Homo sapiens: one gene and its partner. The protein of the gene in region 2 interacts with the protein of the main gene of each other region in a pairwise test. Each region holds a gene or a part of one and is shown on either strand. Other genes may lie near its edges.

Evidence for each region. The genes of interacting proteins can lie anywhere in the genome.
Region 1: the proteins of REL (region 2) and FKBP1B interact in binary tests that used the Homo sapiens proteins (3 or more experiments, as listed by UniProt).

Annotation. Positions count from the first base shown.
Region 1 is NC_000002.12:24,045,318-24,052,748, reverse strand, and holds the start of FKBP1B (peptidyl-prolyl cis-trans isomerase FKBP1B), read right to left. Parts: upstream 3,009-7,431; 5' UTR 2,900-3,008; coding exon 2,863-2,899; intron 1-2,862. UniProt on the Homo sapiens protein: Has the potential to contribute to the immunosuppressive and toxic effects of FK506 and rapamycin. PPIases accelerate the folding of proteins. It catalyzes the cis-trans isomerization of proline imidic peptide bonds in oligopeptides.
Region 2 is NC_000002.12:60,926,416-60,932,147, reverse strand, and holds the end of REL (proto-oncogene c-Rel), read right to left. Parts: 3' UTR 536-5,732; downstream 1-535. UniProt on the Homo sapiens protein: Proto-oncogene that may play a role in differentiation and lymphopoiesis.

The DNA.
Region 1 (7,431 bases), about 37 Mb from region 2:
GAGATTCTCCCACCTCAACCTCCCAAAGTGCTGAGATTATAGGCATGAGCCACCAAACCCGCCCTGGAGTTTATATTCTAATGGACAGAGACAATACTTAAATATACAAAATGATTATGGATTATGATGAATACTCTAAAGAAAATACACACAATGATGTATTAAAGGGAGATGCAGTGGGACAGGCCATTTCAGACAGAGTGGTCCAGGATGGCCTCTTGGAGAAGGTGCCCCCTGGAGCTGGGACTTGAAGGATGAGCAAAATACTGGGAAATAGCACTTGGGAAAGGAGTAACAAGTGCACAGAATCAACACATTTGCAGTGAGCAAGGAGGCTAGGTGCTGGAAAGAAGGGAGGGAGGAGAGAGGTGGGAAGGACATGGATCATGCAGGGCTTGAAGAGCCGGATTTAATACTAAGTGCAATAGGAAACCACTGGAGGGTTTTAAGCCAGAGAATGACATAATCTGAATTAAGATTTTATAACATCACTCTGGCTGCTATGTGTAGGATGGACGGTTAGGCGTCTGTTGCAATAATCCAGACAAGAAATCAATGATAGCTTGATTTAAGGTGGTGGCAGCAGAGAAGAGAGTGAAAGATTGGAGACATATTTTCGAAGCGGAGCTGACAGGTCATGCAATCAGACTGGAAATGGGGTCCAGGATGAGGACAAAGGAGACAACAAGAACGATGCTTGGGTTTTCTGTTTGGGCAACTGGATGAATAGTGCAACTATTTCCTGAGATAGGGAAGACGGGAGGAACAGATTTGTGCGGGTGGCAATCTTGAGATGCCTATTAGACATCTGAGTTTATATTGCAAGTAGGCAGATGAAGAGTCTGCACTGGAGGTATAAATTTGGCTGGAATTTAAAGCTACGGGGCTGGATACAAAGCCTAAGGAAGCCTAACCACAGAGCCGATATTTAGAGGACTCTATGGGATCCTGGAGGAGGGAGCAGCTAACTGACCACAGAAGTCAAGGAAAACATCATAGAGGAGAGAATGGTGAAGCCAGGTCTTGAAAGACAAGTAAGAGTTTGCCAGAGGAAGTGAAAAAACACCATCTGGGAAGAGGGAACAACATGTAACATGTTCAAAGGCCCTCAGTCCAGCAATAGCGGGAACCCTGTCTGTTTCAACTGTGTCACCTTAGGGCCTAGCACACACGTTCAATAAATATTTGCTGAACGAGTGGTGTGTTTGACAACTTGCAGGCAGCTTGGGAAAGCTGGAGGAAAAAGTTAGTGGTGGGCTTAGGACAGGTGGTGAGAGATGAAGCTCTAGTGTGGAAGATGAGAATAGACCATAGCACCAAAGGCCCCTCCTGGGGGAGAGGGAAGAATCATTAAAACATCTTCTGCCTGAGGGAGGGGCATAGTCAAACATGCATTTTTTTTCTTTTTTTTTTTTGAGATAGAGTCTTGCTCTGTCACCCAGGCTGGAGTGCAATGGCACAATCTCAGCTCACTGCAACCTCTGGCTCCCAGGGTCAAGTGATTCTCCTGCCCCAGCCTCCCGAGTAGCTGGGATTACAGGTGCGTACCACCATGCCCAGCTAATTTTTGTATTTTTAGTAGAGACGGGGTTTCAACATGTTGGTCAGGCTGGTCTCGAACTCCTGACCTTGTGATCCGCCCGCCTCAGCCTCCCAAAGTGCTGGGATTACAGGCGTGAGCCACTGCATTTTAAGAAGAGTCTTCAGGCTATGATATAGAAAGGGAGTGAATATGAGATTGGGGACGAGATTGAAAGCAGGGAGGAGAGACTGAAGATGGGGAGATTAGCTCAGGGGCTGCTGAGGGATGAAAAGGCCTCAGGGAGATGCTTTCTGGGACCCAGCAGCAATGTTTCCTGCGTGGGCAAAGAAGCCTGTACTCCAGGGGATATCTGAAGTAGTGGCTGGGATTGGACAAGGAAGATGGCCTGGAGCCAAGAAGTTATCCAATTTCCTGGGGAGGGGAGCTGTTCATATTAATAATATCTGATATGAAGTTTGCCCATCAAACCCTGCAGACAATGGGGGCTTTGGTATTAATTAAATTTCAAGAAATAAAGAAATGGCTATTCCTTGCACACCCAGACCCAGTAATACAAGGACTTGGGAAAGTGAGACACGGAAGGGGGATAAAGAGGATCACTTAGGAGAGAAGGTGGGAAGCGAGAGTTCTGTTTTGGACTTGCTGACCAGGGAGCACCCTGGGACGTCCAGGGAGAGGTTCGGCCGTAGGTCGCAGGGCTGGGCTTAGAAGCTTCAATGTGGAGGCCATGGGAGTGGACAGGGTGGCCAGGGAGTCTGAAAGCGGCGGCAGGATAAAGCGAGATCCGGAAGCGGGCAAGGGAGCGCTTCCCCCTTCCCCAGCCTGGGTCTGTCCCCACAGCCGCTCACAGCCCGGCCCGCAGGGAAGCGACCGAGGGGAGGCCCGGCGGGGGACGCGCTAGGAGGAGGTCCCCGAGCAGCGGGTATCCGAGAGCAGGTCCTGCTTTCCAGAGCTCGCCGAGTAGGGCAGGGAAAGCGAAGCCGAAACCCAGGCTGGGGTATCAGCAGCAGCGGATAACCGAACGACTGCAGCCGCGACAGGAGAAGCCCGGGGCGGTGGCGGGCCGCAGACCCCCGCCTCCGGGCCGCAGACCCCCGCCTCCGAGCTGCCGCCTACATTCCCCTAGGTGAGCGCGGAAGAGGATGGCGGAGGATGGTCTCCTAGACCCCCAAGAATCCCGTCCGGCGTCTCCGCCTGCCTTCCCCATCCAGCCCCCCGACCCTTCAGCACCCTCCACGCCACCTCCGAATCAGACCCCCGCCCTCCGGGCTCCGCCCCGGGACCCCTCCCCTCCCCTGGCTCCGGAGGGAGCCCGGTACCGTCTCCGGGGGAGATGGTCTCGATCTCCACGCCCATAGCGGTCCCACAGGCCCCGCCTCTGGGGGGTCCCTGCTGCTGCCCGACCCCGGCTCGGCTCCGGCCCCAGCCCCGCCGTCGCTCCGGCTCGCCTCCTCGCCGCCACTGCAGAGCCGGAGGAGGTGCGGCTGGAGTCGGGACCTGCGCGGGGAGGGGCCACTGGCAAGGGGGCGGCGGGGCGGAGCCGCGCGGAAAGGTGGGGTCGGCCGGGGCGGGGCCCGGGGGAAGGGACCCCGCCCGGCTGTTAGCGAGCCTGGCCCCGCCTGACGACATTAACCCACTGACCAGGGAGCGTGGTAAGCACAACCACATCCTCCATCCATCCATTCATTCGCGCATCCGTCCAATAGACATTTATTTAGCATCTAATCTGTAGTAAGCTCTGGGAAGTCAACCCAGTCCTACAGACTTGTGGGGGGTGGGGGGCAGAAGGGGCAAAGGCCGGCGATTAAACCATCATTTTATTTTTATTTTTATTTTAGACAGAGGATCTTGCTCTGTCGCCCAGGCTGGAGTCCAGTGGCGCGATCATAGCTCACAGCAACCTCGAACTCTTAGGCTCAAGCGATCCTTCTTCCTCAGCCTCCACCCAAGTAGCTGGGACTAGAGGCGCGAGCAACCACGCCCAGCTAATCTTTTATTTTTTATTTTTATTTTTTGTAGAAACGGGGTCTCGCTGTGTTGCTATCTAATGAAACCATCACTTTAATTAGATGCGCTCAGTGCCGTGCAGTTCAGAGCGTTGCGGAAGCACAGAAGAGGTTCCTACCCTCGCTAGGCGTCCTGGATCTGTAGGAGCAGAGCTGGGGGAGGGAGGGAGGACACCAGTAATTGCTGACTCTCCCCCATACCCCTAAACCCCTGTTCTCCATCTCGTGTAGTTCTGCTCGACGCACATTTATTGGGTACTCAATTTTCAAGGCAAAGAAATGCGCCCTGGGGATACCAATAGAATTAAGACAGGTTGGCTGTCTTCCAGGTACTAAGTCTGAGAGGGACGGGGACACACAGTTACTGCATGGAGTGATTAGTGCTGTGGAATGAATGAATGAATATGTAAATGAATTCTACTTTGAGTTCCTCCTCCACCAAAAAATACATTCAGGAATCTAGAAAAATATTTTTTGGAGGAGGTAATATTTGTTTAAAGGGTAATTGGGACTTTTAAAATTTTTTCCCCCTCATTATTACCTGCATTGTTCCAAAAATTGATGTGAGGCCAAGTATATCAATTTTTGGAACAATGGCTCACACCTGTAATCTCAACACTGTAGGAGACCGAGGCAGGAGGATTGCTTGAGCCTAGAAGTTCAAGACCAGCCTGGGTAACATAGCGAGATCCCGTCTCTCTCTCTCTCCTTTTTTTTTTTTTTTTTTTTGAGACAGAATCTTCACTCTGTCGCCAGGATGGAGTGCAGTGGCACAATCTCGGCTCACTGCAACCTCCGCCTCCCAGGTTCAAGCGATTCTCGTGCCTCAGTCTCCCAAGTAGCTGGGATTACAGGCGTGAGACACCAGCGTTCGGCTAATTTTTAAATTTTTAGTAGAGACAGGGTTTCACCATGTTGGCCAGGCTGGTCTCGAACTCCCGACCTCAGGTTATCCGCCCGCCTCAGCCTCCCAAAGTGCTGGGATTACAGGCATGCCATCTTTATTTTTAAAAAAAGAAAAGAAAAGAAAAAGAAAAACATAAAAACTGATGTGAAGATATGATTCTCCTGAGTGGCACTGGAAGATAGGCATGGGGAGAAAAGCCTGGCAAACTGGTCCAGAATGAGCCCCAAGGGTGTTCTTCCTCCATTTCCTCATCCCCACTCTCCCGGATGCTTAGGTCCCAGATGAGGTTGTCTGCATCCCTGAAGGTGTTCTGGCTGTGTTGTTAAAGAAAGATGATTGTCGACTGTACTGTGAGGGTCAGGACCTGGAATTCCTCATAGGTCTGAAGAAGCCTAAGGGACGCACTAAATCCATAGGCTGCGGCCAGAGCAGGCACGCTTAGGGTCGGGGTAGAACAGGGATTTGTAGCTGGGACAGGCCCATGCAGCGGCTTCAGCTCAATGCACAGTATTTTGTGTACAGATAAGAACATTTTCCTGAGAGATTTTATCAGATTTTAAAGAAGGTTAAAAAGCCGTGGTGATCCTAGGGCTCCTGGACTCCTTAGACAAGAGAACCGACGAGAAGTGGGGAAAGAGCTCAAGTGCTTAAGGGAGGGAAAATGTGGCGGGCTTGCGGTCGGTGGTTTTACGGGGACTACCACTCCCAGCGATCCGTGCGGCAGAGCCAGAGCTTATTGGCCAGTGGGACGAACCCTCTGCTAATGTGCATATTCAAAAGCCAATAGACGGGGCCATCTCGGAGCGTGCCTATCCTATCAGAGGACCACCCACCTATCAGAGGACCGATATCACCGCCCACCTATCAGAGGACTGAGGGCCGGTGCTTCCGGTGGCTGCCCAGAACTTCTTATGTGCGGCGGCGTGATGTTGGGCGGCCACAGAGAGATTGGTGTTTTTGTGAGGCAGTGAGACCTAAGGTATTTCATCTCCACTGCTGCCGGGCCTGGCGGGTGTGGGGAGGCTGTAGGGGGTCAGGAGGGAAGTGGATCGGCTCTTGGTGGGTAGGGGGCGGGAAGGAGGAGATTCAGGCGTGCAGAGAGGATGAGGAGAATGGGGCGGGCCGCGTGTGAGGGGTCGCGGGATGAGGATCGAGCTAGGGGTGGGTGTAAATGAGGGATTATGACCGTGACTCGTGAATAACACTCCTGGGAATATGTCCCAAGGAAGTCATCCAAAGTCAGGAAATGCTTTAAGCCTTAAGACCTCGGTCCGAGCTTTATTTATAGCGGGTAGCGGGATAAAGTTGGGTACAGCTAGGAGCAGTTCAGTACATTATGTCACTTCACTGAGTGTATGTGAAGTGGCCTCTAAAACTAATTTATTAAACTTTTAAATAACATAGGGAAATGCTAATATATAATGTTAGATGAAAACCGTGATACAAAGTTGCACAGTATAACTGAAAAAGTTTGACAGCCAAACTATGCATAGAAGAGTCTAGAGGGATTAGTCATAATTTTCTTTGGATGAATGTTTTTTCGTTAACTCTTCTTAATTTTTTTCTTGTGTATGATTTTTGTTTCCAAATAAGTGTAAAGAACTTGAAATCATTTTATAGTGGAAATACAATAAACTTGGAAAACAAGTTGGGGGAGGGATGTACTTTTGTTTAAACCTGCTGGAAATGCCAGTTCACCTGAATCCCTTGATTCTCGTCATGAGTTGTCTTTAAAGAAGATGAAAAACAGAATTAAATGGTTATATACTGAGCACCGGCTCTTAGTTTTCTGACCACCTCTCCGGAGACCTGAACTAATACAGTGGTCTTTTCCCTCCTAAAACACCCAGGGTTCTTGATTTCATGTTCTCCAAAAAACTTATACTCTGGAGATTGTGAAACAATAGGTATACAATTAGTTTCAGGCAAAATCAGTAGCGTTGGGGAATGCCTGAAGAGCATTTAAACCTTGGTCCTCCTGGCCCTCTGATCTTATACAGTGAGGTTCTCCACTACCTTGACTTTAATGATTAACCCTATGTCAGTGATTTCCAAATCCTTACCTCTGACTGCCTAAGGTACATTGGTACCATGTAGACATCTTACATGAAGCACATGTTAATTTCAATTTGTCACATACTACACACGTTCCTCCCCTACTGCCCCCACCCCCACCTCCCCAACAGGGTCTCACTCTGTCACCCAGGCTGGAATGCAGTGGTGTGATCATAGCTTACTGTAACCTTGAACTCCTGAGCTCAAATCCTCTCAGCCTCCATAGTAACTAGGACTGCAGGTGTGGGACGCTGCACCCAGCTAATTTTTATTTTTATTTTTATTATTTTTTATTTTCCTTTTTTATGGAACGCTTCACAAATTTGCAAGTCATCCCTGTGCAGGGGCCATGCTACGCTCTGTATCATTTCAGTCTTAGTATATGTGCTGCCAAAGTGAGCACCCACCTCATTTTTAAAAATTTTTCTGTAGAATTGGGGTCTCCCTGTGTTGCCTAGGCTGGTCTTGAAATACTGGCATCAAGTGATCCTCCCACCTCAGCCTCCCAAAGTGCTGGGATTACAGGTGTTAGCCACTGTGCCTGCCCTTCCTTTCCTTTCTTCCTTCCCTCCCCCTCCCCCTTCCTTCCTTCCTTCCTTCCTTCCTCTCTCTCTCTCTTTTTTTTTTTTTTTTTTTTGAGATGGAGTCTTGCTCTGTCACCCAGGCTGGAGTGCAGTGGCGCAAACTCGGCTCACTGCAACCTCCGCCAGCCGGGTTCAAGCGATTCTCCTGCTGCAGCCTCCCAAGTAGCTGGAACTACAGGCACACACCACCACGCCCAGCTAATATTGTATTTTTAGTAGAGACAGGGTTTCACCATGTTGGCCAGGGTGGTGTCGAACTCCTGACCTCAGATGATCCACCTGCCTCAGCCTCCCAAAGTGCTGGGATTACAGGCATGAGGCACCACACCCAGCCTG
Region 2 (5,732 bases):
GTGGCATGCGCCTGTAGTCCCAGCTACTTGGGAGGCTGAGGCGGGAGGATCTCTTGAGCCCAGGAGGCAGAAGTTGCAGTGAGATGTGATTGTGCCACTGCACTCCAGCCTTGATGACAGAGTGAGACTCTGTCTCAAAAAAGAGAAGAGACACCCTAGATCTCCATCCTTCTCTCTCTCTACCATGTGAGGATGATGGGAAGGCAGCCCTCTGCAAGCCAGGAGGAGAGCCTCAGCAGAAACCGTCCTAGTACCCCTGATCTCGGACTTTCAGCCTCCAGGACTCTGAAAACAGATTTTTGTTGGTTAAGCCAGAAAAGGAAAAAGGAAAAAAATCTTGTAAAAAGGCACTTCAGTACTCTACAAAATTATTTCAAAGGACAGTTACAAATGCAACCATATTCAGCAACAGCATTCCATAAAAATGTCTAATGTTTCTAAGCAACTAAAACTACCTTTTCCTGTTAGGAAGATGCTATAAATATGAAGAAAATCTGATATTTTAAAAGTTAAATAGCAACAAAATTTCAGCAAGTGTTTTAGAATTTTTCCATTTATTATCAAGAAAAAAATCACTATATACAAAGATATTGCAAATGTAATAAAATATTCTGTATAATAAACAGCATTTTGGCATTTTAAAAACAACTGTATCTTGATACTAAACTTAACATTAAATAATTGAACAGTACCTGAGAACTTTAAAAAAATCACTTTCATCAGTGCCTCCAAATTCATTTCAGTCATTAAGCATCTACAAATACTCAGTCAAAAAAAATAGGATTTTGGTATTCTGCTGGGATCTACATTCATCACAGCCAAAGGTATTTTAAGTACATACTTTTAAAACAGAAATCACTTCTAAAGGGTTCACCTGGTCAAAAACCATACATTTAAGAACGCTGGTTACCCAAAAGCTTTGTGTTTTCCTTGCCACATCATCTTAAAGCTACTTGAACTGTGAGACAGTGACCAACATTATTAGCTAATTACCCAGTAAAAATTGAGTGTATCACCAATGAAGTCTCATTAAATTCAGTTCCACAAATGGATCCTCAAATATTCCAACCTTATCTATATTTTATTACATCTTATGGAAAACTATGTTTGATTAGATAATAAAGTTTAAGAGGAAAAATGGGCAAGATGAATGTTTGATACTTTTACCAAAAATTTATATTTCATTTACTTGCTGATTTCCCTGAAAACTCAATTTGTTGAAGAAGCAACATGCTGTACTAATTACTGTGTATTACTATTCACACACAAGTGTTTAATGAATTTTACTTGTAATTCTTTAAATTTTTGAAAGTCCAATAGTAAACTAAAGTTGTGGAAACAACTGATAAGAATATTAGAGGATAATAAATTCTACATCTTTAAATAGGTAAGTACTAGCTGGTGGTATTTTCCTAAAGCCACAGACATTTAGAATAAATAGAGTGATTACTTTTGAAAACTTTGATCTGTATTTTGTTTATTAATAGGGCATGAGTGGTTTTGTCTGTGCTTTTTGCATGCATGAAAAACATTACAGACATGATTACTTTCAAGATTCAATCCTACCCACTGTTAACTTTGTGCTTAACTAAACTCTGCTAAGATGTATTAGTTAAAATATTAATTTGACTACGTCTTAGGCAAAAAAAAGGCATAAAACTAGATACAGACAACCCATACATTTATCTCTGATTAGTCACCTATTTCTGGGCTTATAATAAATGATAAGCCAAAAGAAGGCTCTCCAAAGCTGGGCAATAACTAGTTAATGCTAATGAGAAGTCCATCTCAGGTTTCTTACTAAAGAACCTAATCCATAATGATTTTTCTCACTCTGCTGTGTATTAGATAACTAGAAGGAGTATCTAAATTAAAGATTAATCCGGGACATAGGATATACAGATATTGGTTTATTAACAATATTTGATTCGCACTATATAATTTACAGTGTTTCTTCTTATGTACCATTTTATTTAGTACAACACAACCTGTTAGGTAGCAGGCTGGGTATTACCTGAGTAAAAAGTCCCTATTCTTTCCATTTCTCCATGCTATTTAAAAGCATGTGGTGATCCTTCAATAAATTAAAGATATAACAAATTATTTGATGCCATTAGGCGGCCTGGATCACCAATTCTAAGTCTTTTTTTTTTTTGAGACAGGGTCTTGCCCAGGCTGGAGTGCAGTGGCGTAATCACTGCTCACTACAGACTCAACCTCCTGGGTTCAAGGGATCCTCCCACCTCAGCCTCCCTAATAGCTGGGACCACAGGCACATGTCACCATGCCTGGCTTTCTTTTTCTTATTTATTTATTTATTTATTTTTTATTATACTTTAAGCTTTAGGGTACATGTGCACATTGTGCAGGTTACTTACATATGTATACATGTGCCATGCTGGTGCACTGCACCCACTAACTCGTCATCTAGCATTAGGTATATCTCCCAATGCTATCCCTCCCCCCTCCCCCCACCCCACAACAGTCCCCAGTGTGATATTCCCCTTCCTGTGTCCATGTGTTCTCATTGTTCAATTCCCACCTATGAGTGAGAATATGTGGTGTTTGGTTTCTTGTTCTTGCGATAGTTTACTGAGAATGATGTTTTCCAATTTCATCCATGTCCCTACAAAGGACATGAATTCATCATTTTTTATGGCTGCATAGTATTCCATGGTGTATATGTGCCACATTTTCTTAATCCAGTCTATCATTGTTGGACATTTGGGTTGGTTCCAAGTCTTTGCTATTGTGAATAATGCCGCAATAAACATACGTGTGCATGTGTCTTTATAGCAGCATGATTTATAGTCCTTTGGGTATATACCCAGTAATGGGATGGCTGGGTCAAACGGTATTTCCAGTTCTACATCCCTGAGGAATCGCCACACTGACTTCCACAATGGTTGAACTAGTTTACAGTCCCACCAACAGTGTAAAAGTGTTCCTATTTCTCCACATCCTCTCCAGCACCTGTTGTCTCCTGACTTTTTAATGATTGCCATTCTAACTGGTGTGAGATGGTATCTCATTGTGGTTTTGATTTGCATTTCTCTGATGGCCAGTCATGATGAGCATTTTTTCATGTGTTTTTTGGCTGCATAAATGTCTTCTTTTGAGAAGTGTCTGTTCATGTCCTTCGCCCACTTTTTGATGGGGTTGTTTTTTTCTTGTAAATTTGTTTGAGTTCATTGTAGATTCTGGATATTAGCCCTTTGTCAGATAAGTAGGTTGCGAAAATTTTCTCCCATTTTGTAGGTTGCCTGTTCACTCTGATGGTAGTTTCTTTTGCTGTGCAGCAGCTCTTTAGTTTAATTAGATCCCATTTGTCAATTTTGGCTTTTGTTGCCATTGCTTTTGGTGTTTTAGACATGAAGTCCTTGCCCATGCCTATGTCCTGAATGGTAATGCCTAGGTTTTCTTCTAGGGTTTTTATGGTTTTAGGTCTAACGTTTAAGTCTTTAATCCATCTTGAATTGATTTTTGTATAAGGTGTAAGGAAGGGATCCAGTTTCAGCTTTCTACATATGGCTAGCCAGTTTTCCCAGCACCATTTATTAAATAGGGAATCCTTTCCCCATTGCTTGTTTTTCTCAGGTTTGTCAAAGATCAGATAGTTGTAGATATGCGGCGTTATTTCTGAGGGCTCTGTTCTGTTCCAGTGATCTATATCTCTGTTTTGGTACCAGTACCATGCTGTTTTGGTTACTGTAGCCTTGTAGTATAGTTTGAAGTCAGGTAGTGTGATGCCTCCAGCTTTGTTCTTTTGGCTTAGGATTGACTTGGCGATATGGGCTCTTTTTTGGTTCCATATGAACTTTAAAGTAGTTTTTTCCAATTCTGTGAAGAAAGGCATTGGTAGCTTGATGGGGATGGCACTGAATCTGTAAATTACCTTGGGCAGTATGGCCATTTTCACGATATTGATTCTTCCTACCCATGAGCATGGAATGTTCTTCCATTTGGTTGTATCCTCTTTTTTTTTTTTTTTTTGCAGAGACAGGTTTTCCTTATATTACCCAGGCTAGTCTTGAACTCCTGGGCTCAAGCAATCCCCCTACCTCGGCCTCCCAAAGTGCTGGGATTACAGGCGTGATCCATCCACCATGCCAGTGCCCTGCTCCATGTCTCTCTTAACATGGAAACCATCATGAGTTTTCCTGAAGTATTAGGTTAGACGTTGACAACCCAGCTGTTTCTGTTCACTATGGTTGTGAGAAGCCCAGTTATTTAAAAGGCCATTAAGATTGAAAATAGATTTAGAGGTGTAGGTACAGACTGGGAAGGGGCATGAAGGAAATTTCAGGGGTGCTGGAAATGTCCTAAACATGGTGGTGACATGGGTGTTAACATACATAAAAATTAATTAAGCTGTACATTTAAAATTAGTCCCCTTTATGCATTTTACTCTACATGTGTTATCCTTGCAAAGAAAAAGACTGACATCTTTGAGAGCAAGAGTTTTTGTCTTATTCACCTCTGTATAATTTCCAACATCGTGCTTTGCACATTGGACATTCAAAAAATGTTATACAAGATTGACTGCATCAATACTGGAGTGTTGTGTGAGGGTTAGGTGCTGAGGCTGAGAAGTGTATGAGGGAGACCTGAGATTAAACCTGCCACATAAAGTGGAGAGAAGTAGCAAGGTCAGGGCTATGAAATAATCCCAAAAACTTTAGAATTTCTACATAATACAGTTGACACTACTATTCTCAATAGAGCTGCTTTCAGTCTCAAAGGGCTGTGGTATGTGTGCGTGTGTGTGTGGTAAAAAAGGGAAGCAGCAGGTCAAGGAAGAGAAGTGTTATTTCACAAGACTTAAGTAATCTTGTCATTGCTGCTTTTCCTGCCAGAAAATCATTACCTTTCCCTTTAAAAATCATTTCCATATACATTTTACTAACTCCCATGTCAATTTCACCCTTCCTTTTCTAATAATAGCTACTATTTATTCAGCACCAACTAGTATACTAGGGACTATGCTGGGTGCTGGAGTCCCAATGACGAAAGAGACAAACACTTAAATAAGAGGATGTCCGTAATACAGGCATGTACAAAGCTTCACCTCAAGTAAGGAGGCAGGACCAACCTTCATACAGAAGCCCAGCCTTCAAGGATGAGTGTTCTAGTTCCAGAAGAGCAGAGGCAGAGTGGGTAACATGCTAAAGGTATGGAGGCCTGAGAGAATTGTTTTTTTTCAAGGAATGCTAGCTATGTAATAAGGAATAGGGAGAACATGGTATTTTAACTGGAACATATGGAAAAGATTATTACTAGGGAAAAAAGAATGAAGGCCTTTACTAAGAAGGCAGCAGGAATTAAGAAGGGACATATTCAAGAGGAGACAAGCTCAAAAGGACTTGATGATTAAGTATGAGTGTGATGGAGAAAAAGAATACAATACTTTGAGGTTCCTAGTAAGTATCTTGGGTGGCGTGGTAAATGGTAATGCCATTATGGAAGGTAAAGAAGAGAGCGAGCCAGTTTATCAGGACATTCAGGTAGCATGAAAGAAAACTGAACCTGTGGGCTCTGATAAGATCATCGGAGGGCGGGTAGGGGGAAATAGCACCAACTGAGGGGAGGGGTCAAGACTCATGGGAAATAAATCTCAGGGAGGAATCTTGACTACCACAGAAAACCCAGAGGAGTATGCAAAGAGGGAAGTATAGGAGGTTATACATAGGTCAAGCAGTGTGAGGACTGAAAAAAAGACACTAGATTTGACA